2 linked regions of the Homo sapiens genome follow. The protein of the gene in region 1 purifies or fractionates together with the protein of each later gene. This does not show direct contact. Each region holds a gene or a part of one and is shown on either strand. Other genes may lie near its edges.

Evidence for each region.
Region 2: the proteins of ZSCAN31 (region 1) and DHX57 purify together in Homo sapiens (affinity purification with mass spectrometry; 2 studies listed by BioGRID and IntAct, with this or other methods). This does not show direct contact.

Annotation. Positions count from the first base shown.
Region 1 is NC_000006.12:28,329,649-28,333,148, reverse strand, and holds part of ZSCAN31 (zinc finger and SCAN domain-containing protein 31), read left to right. Parts: intron 1-755; exon of another isoform or gene 756-864; intron 865-3,370; 5' UTR 3,371-3,465; coding exon 3,466-3,500.
Region 2 is NC_000002.12:38,851,935-38,855,434, forward strand, and holds part of DHX57 (putative ATP-dependent RNA helicase DHX57), read right to left. Parts: intron 3,319-3,500; coding exon 3,123-3,318; intron 2,245-3,122; coding exon 2,120-2,244; intron 2,032-2,119; exon of another isoform or gene 1,947-2,031; intron 1-1,946. UniProt on the Homo sapiens protein: Probable ATP-binding RNA helicase.

The DNA of each region.
Region 1 (3,500 bases):
TGAAACAGTGAGCCTGGTTCCCTACAACCTGAGACACACCACATTTAATCCCCCAGGAGTTGAATTCTAGGATGTCTTTGACTGTTTCTGCAGTCAAGTCATCAACTCCACTAACTACTCTGTGTTTGTGTTTCTGGTCCACTGAGATTTTTGTCTTGTATTTGTAGCTGGCCATGTCTTTCTCTTTATCCCCTTTTATATATCATCTCCCAATGCCAAATGTTTGGAGTCAATTTGGTAATTAATCATAAATTGGCCTGTTTCATATCACCCTGGAAATCTAAATCCAATCTTTAATGTTGCTTTTGAGCTGTTGTTGGGATGTTCAGGGGGACACCCCTGGTGGTATCTAGAGATGGGCTTCAGTACACAAATGGGAGGTCACCACTGGTCACAGTCTGTCCTGGATTTTCTTGAATATTTCTTCTAGTATTTTCAACTGTCTACTGACTATTAACATATGAAGTCAATATTTTATTTTGTTGGGTCTATTTCCTCTATGAAATGAAGATATTCAATTTACTAATACTACTTTACTAATAATACCTGCTCATTGATATTTATGTAATGATTGCTATGGGCCAGGTACTGCGCTAAGCTTTTTATATGCGTTACCTTGTATAATCATAACACCTATAAGAGGAGTACTATGGTCATTAACACTTAGAGAGGCCACAGGATTTGAACGTTATTCACTGTACTGCAGTGCTTCAGTAAAGATCATTTTAAATAGTTTATTCCATTTAATTTGTCAGATGTCTATCAAGTATTTGTTCCCTGCTAGGATATCAGATGACACCAAATTTGCATTTAATCGAATAAATCAGGTAAACAAAACATTGAAGATGCGTTCATAATTTTGTGGTAAGTCCAGACTTCTAAGTCTTCTAGGCATTTTAAAAATAAGAAGTGTCTGTAATCTGTAGCAGTTTGGGAGAGGAGATAGGAAGAGATGGGAGGACTGGCTGGGAACACAGGGTAATGCATATACATCCTGGGAACAGGGGTGGTTTGGGGGACAAGAAGAAAGAGTGTATTTTCCCTTCTGTGTTCCTTTCCCTGTCCTTACCATGGCTTGATGAAGTGAAAGGGGATATAGGAGGGGAGAATATATTTATTTGCCCAGAAAACATTTATGGAGCACTGACAGTGGGCCAGGCACTGTGCTATGCATTAAGGATAAAGACAGTTCATGGTGGCATAAGACCAGGAGGTAAATCCTAAGCACCAATTATGGGGAGAAGAATACAATTGATGGAGAAATACTCCACCTGTGGCTTTGGGTATGTGAGAGATTGCCTGTAGTGATCAAGAAAACAAAAAACAAAAAAAGCCAACTGTATCTCCATGGTTTCTCAATAGCATTAAAGTGCAGAACGCATATTTGCAGAACAATTTTTGCCTATAAACCTAAGGCCATGAGAAGCTACATGTTTAATAATAATGGAATCCAATACAAATTCATAATTAGAAATTTTCAGACTTTCAGTCTTCTGCACTGAAGACTCAACAAACCAAATTACCAGATGCTACAGTAAGGAGTAAAAAGATATACATTTGGCATTAGACATTGACAAAGAATAAATGCCATGATCTTTGTAACTCTTCAAATTCTCAATTCTGTAACATCATTTTATGTGAATATTTTATTAAGGTCTGTCTTTCCCATGGTAAATACCATAAAGTTAGGGACCGTTCCTTTATTCCAGACACCTAGTAGACACATAATATTGGAATGAATTGAATAAATGCATTTTCACCCAATAAAGTGTAACTGAAAAACTTCCAAGTGATCTCAGACCTTAATAATTCAATTAGCATTGGGCAAAAATCATATAAAACTTAAATTACACCACTAAAGTCAACATTGTATCAGTTTAACTACCATTAAACTTCCCAACTTAAATGGCCACAACCTTGCAACATATTCTTACCATTTCCATCCTGAATCTTAATATTTTCTATAAATACAGATCTAACACCATAACAATGAAATAAAAGCCTTGATGCCTCTCAGTTTTCCATAAAGTCAAGTCTAACGTCTAAGCCTAGAGTTGAAGGCCATTTTCTATCCCATATAATGCATCTTTCTAACCTCATCTCCTCTCACAATTTTACCCACAACCCATATTCTATAGTTCAGCTTTGCCTGTCTTTATCGCCATTGTGTGTGCTCTTAAATACCTTTCCTCATGTTGTTTGCTTGATTTATGATGCCGGATACCTTCCTTTCTCTGCCTGATAAATTCCTTTTCATGATTTTAGTCTAATTCAAGTGTACTTTCCCCTAAGTCACATTCTTTCAATATTCCATACCCTGTCAGAAATTCTTTTTTCTATTCTTTACTCCCTGAATATTCTGGTGAGGCCTCTATTATAGCATTCATCATCTGATATTATAGCTGGTTTTATATATCCTGTTCTCCTCCTAGAGCTACCATATACACATATTGCCCAGGCTTTTAAATCACTTCTACAGACTGAATATCCCTTATCCAAAATGCTTGGGACCAGAGTGTTTTGGATTTCAGATTTTTCTGGATTTTGGAATATTTGCATTATACTTAACAGTTGAACATCCCTAATCTGAAAATCTGAAATATGAAATGCTCCAATGAGCATTTCCTTTTAGCATCATGTCTGTGCTCAAAAAGTAAATATCTCTTGCTTTTGTAATTCCACAGTTACCTAATTCTGCTTCCCAGAGGTTCACCCTTCTATATCAGTTATCTATTGCCATAATAATGTGGTATAATAAATAGCCACAAAACGTTGGTGGCATATAGTGATAAACTTATGTTTAGCACATAAGTATATGGGGCACAGCTTACTTGGGGTGGGCAGGCCCTATTTATACATCTGCATTCAACAGCTCTGCAGACCTCAGGCTAGGCCTGCTCACATGTCTGGCAGTTAGCTGGCTGTCAGCTAATCTAGGATGGTCTCATCTGCTCCACTGGGGTGATCTGGCTCTGTCCTGCATGTCTCTTATCATCTGAAAGATATCCTTCTTCTGGCAGTTTCAGAGGGCAAAAGTAAGCAAACCCAGTCACATAAGTACTGTTCAAACCTCTCCATGCATCACATTTGCTAATATCATTGGCAAAATCAAGTCATATTGTTGAATCCAGTGTCACAATGGAAGGGCACTGCAAAATATTAATACATGGCTATAGGGAAGGGGGAAGAATTGAGGCCATTAACATACTCTGCCATAGCCTTTTCCCAGTTGCTAAACATATGTAAGTCAGTAACTATATATACATTTTATTAACATAAATGATAGAATACCATTCATGTTTCCATACTTTGCTTTTTTCCCCACTACTTTATGATTTATTTCCATTAATATATAATGCTCTATCATCAGGTGTCTTCTCCTAAGGAAGATTAAATCAGAAAATTTTAAATCACAGTTATCCCTTTACTTAAAGCCAGAGTAAGCCTTCCAAATTAACCCCAGGAATGGCTTCAACAGAGGAACAGTACGATCTTAAGAT
Region 2 (3,500 bases), on another chromosome or scaffold:
TTTTTTTTCCCATTGTTTTCTGGAGTTTCTACAAAAAGATTATTTGCCCCTTAGAGATTTCCAATGTTTTCTGTATAGTAATTTAATATTTATTATTGTCTTGTTCTAGGAATTATTTCTTTTTCTTTTGGTTCATTCTTTTTATCTAAAAGTCTTTCTTTAGTTTCTAATTACTTCATATTTCTTATTTACTAATAATAGTAATGTATTATTTCTTCTAATAGTTCTTCTGGTTATATGCCTTCTCTGTTCAATTCCTTTTTTTTTTTTCTTGCTCTGTCGCCCAGCCTGGAGTACAGTGGCGCAATCTCGGCTCACGGCAACCTCCGCCTCCCAGGTTCAAGCGATTCTCCTGCCTCAGCCTCCCGAGTAGCTGGGACTACAGGCGCCTGCCACCAATCCTTTTTTTTTTTTTTTTTTAATGTTTTGCTTTTAGCTATTTTCTGCTTTCCTATCAGTCCACCAAGTTTACTTAGACTTTTTTTCTTCTTCTCAAGATATTTATTGTGGTACAATACTTTGTGGGAAAACTTCATAATTTTCACAGGACTTTCTCTTTTTTCCCACTAGTTTTCTTTTACTGCTCTAGGGCATGATCCACATGACAAACTATGATTAATGCCATCCATCTTCCTGGCCCTCCTCAGTACTTAAAATATTCAGACTTTTAATTTTTTTTTTTTTTTTTTTTAGAGATGGAGTCTCATGATATTTCCCAGGCTGAAGTGGCTCTTCACAGGTGCAATCATAGCACACCACAGCCTTGCACTCCTGAACTTAAGCAATCCTCCTGCCTCAGCCTCCTCAGTAGCTGGAACTACAAGCATGCACCACTGTGTCTGGCAAGAATTTTTATTTTATGCCTCACCCTTTAATGACTTCTAATTTCATAAGATAAAATCCACATGCTTTATTATTCGTGGTGCTTAAGGCCCTGGAAGGTCTGGCTCCTGCTGCTTCTTCCCTGTGCTACTTTCCCCTTTGCTGCTACACAGCAGGTGCACTGGGCTTCCTTGTTTCTGGACTCACAAAGCCCCTTCCCACTGCAAAATCTTCAAACATACTTTCCTTACCCCCGTTTGTCACCTGGGATTCCTTCTCATATTTCAGTTTTCTTTTCTTTTCTTTTCTTTTCTTTTGAGACAGGGTCTTGCTTTCTTGACCAGGGTGGAGTGCAGTGGTGCTATCACAGCTCACTGCAGCCTCAACCTCCTGGGGGCTCAATTGATTCTCCTGCCTCAGCCTCCTGAGTAGCTGGGACCTTAGGTGTGAGGCATCACGCCTGGCTAATTTTTTTTTTTTTTTTTCTGTATCCCCAGTAGAATGACTACTGGCTATTTTTTGTTTTGTTTTGTTTTTTTTACTTTTCGTGGAAACATGGTCTCACTATGTTGCCCAGGTGGGGCTCCAACTCCTGAGCTCAAGCGATCCTCCCACCTTGGCCTCCCAAAGTGCAGGGATTATGGGTGTGAGCCATTGCGCCCGGCCATACTTCAGTTTTGAATTTAAATTGTCATCTTACAGAGATATGATCTTTGAGCATCTATGGGTCTCTCCCTCCAAACACAGCATGCCGTTTATTCCTTCATAGTGCTTATTCCAATTTACAATCATTTGCTTGTTTACTTGTTCATTATTTGTTTTTTCTACTGGACTGTAAGAGATGAGGGGGAGCCATACATGCTTGTTCATCACTGTATCCCCAGCAACTAATATATCACTTGGCATTTAATGCAGGCTCAATAAATACATGAATCAATGTCAGGACTGAATGGCCAAATAAACAAGGAAGAAGATACATTCAGCCACAGCATGCATGACATCTGTTATTTCTACTAAGTACGGTATTCAACTTAGCATAATGCCCAGGATGGTGTGAAGTATACCTTCTAACCTAACAGGATGACTCCATCTAATAAGTGATGAGCATGTGCTGTCCTTTTTAGTGTTACAGACCCTGGAGATCAAGAAAGCAGTTGCTCTTCTCTAACATAGGCCTTCCTTGTGGCAAATTACCATTACTAGCTGCATGAAACTGAATTGGAACTAGAAAACAATTTTTTCTGCCATGCCTTCAATTCAGGTGAGTGTGTGTTCCCTGGGAAAGTCTTTGTTTTACCTTTCTTCTGTCCTCTCATGAACTTCATCAACAATGATATGGGAAACTCCTTGTAGAGCTGTATCTCCTTCTAGCCTTCTCAGCAGCACTCCCGTGGTGCAGTATAACAGTCTGGTGGCTGAGGACTTACACATGAAAGGGCAATATAAATCATTAATAAAATTTTCAAAAAAAGGAAACATTACTGGAAAGCCATTTTGAATGGATAGTGATAAAAAATATTGGAAACACCAGCAGTTCCATTTAATAGGAAACCATACTAAACATAGTTTCTTGCCAGGGACAGTAATAAAAGCCTTTCTACTTCATATCACAATGTTAAGATTTTCATAAAAAGCATTAAAAAACAGTGAATAATGAAAACAGTTCTCAATCTGTCTGCTCCTTATTTGGTTAAATGGATTATGTCCCAAGTTCAAGAGCAAAACAGTCTTTACTAGATGACTTCTGCCAATAAAAAATAAAAAGCTTTACAGAGGAAATTTAGTACAACCAAATAAGAGTTTTTTTTTTTTTTTTTTTTTTGAGACAGAATTTTGCTCTTTTTGCCCAGGCTGGAGTGCAATGGCGCAATCTCGGCTCATTGCAACTTCCGTCTCCCAGGTTCAAGGGATTCTCCTGCCTCAGACTCCCGAGTAGCTGGGATTACAGGCGTGTGCCACCACACTTGGCTAATTTTTGTATTTTTAGTAGAGATGGGGTTTCTCCATGTTGGTCAGGCTGGTCTCGAACTCCCGACCTCAGGTGATCCACCTGCCTTGGCCTCTCAAAGTGCTGGGATTACAGGTGTGAGCCACCGCGCCTGGCCATAAGAGTTCTTATACCAAAATATTTCTAAATATTTCTAAATATTTAAATAAATGATTACCAAAGGTAATCATTAATTTAAAAATAACCTGAAAGTATATATCCCAAATTGCCCATGAATCTCCTAACCCCCAAAACTTTTTATACCTAAAAACCATAAATTTCTGTTACCAGGAAATAAGCAGAGCATACAAACCTTGACACTTTCTAACCGAATCTGGTATCCCACGGTCAGACCCACCCTCTCTGCTCTTTCTTTAGCAACGCGTTCAGCAACAGAGATTGCAGAGATTCGTCGGGGTTGGGTACAGATGATGTTGGCTACCTTCTCAGGTGGTCCATTCAGAGAATCATCCAGAATAAACTGCGGAATTTGTGTGGTTTTCCCACATCTGTACATTAAAACAAATAAGTCCTAAAATGAAGTTTTCAAGGGCTAGTTAACTAAAGAAGCAATCATATGGAATGAGAAAAGTGATAAAGCTAATTAGAATAAAAGTTGTTCAGTTTCAGGTATTTTCTAAAACAACCTCCTGACTTATTACCAAGAGGTGGGAAATTCTAGGAATTTGCA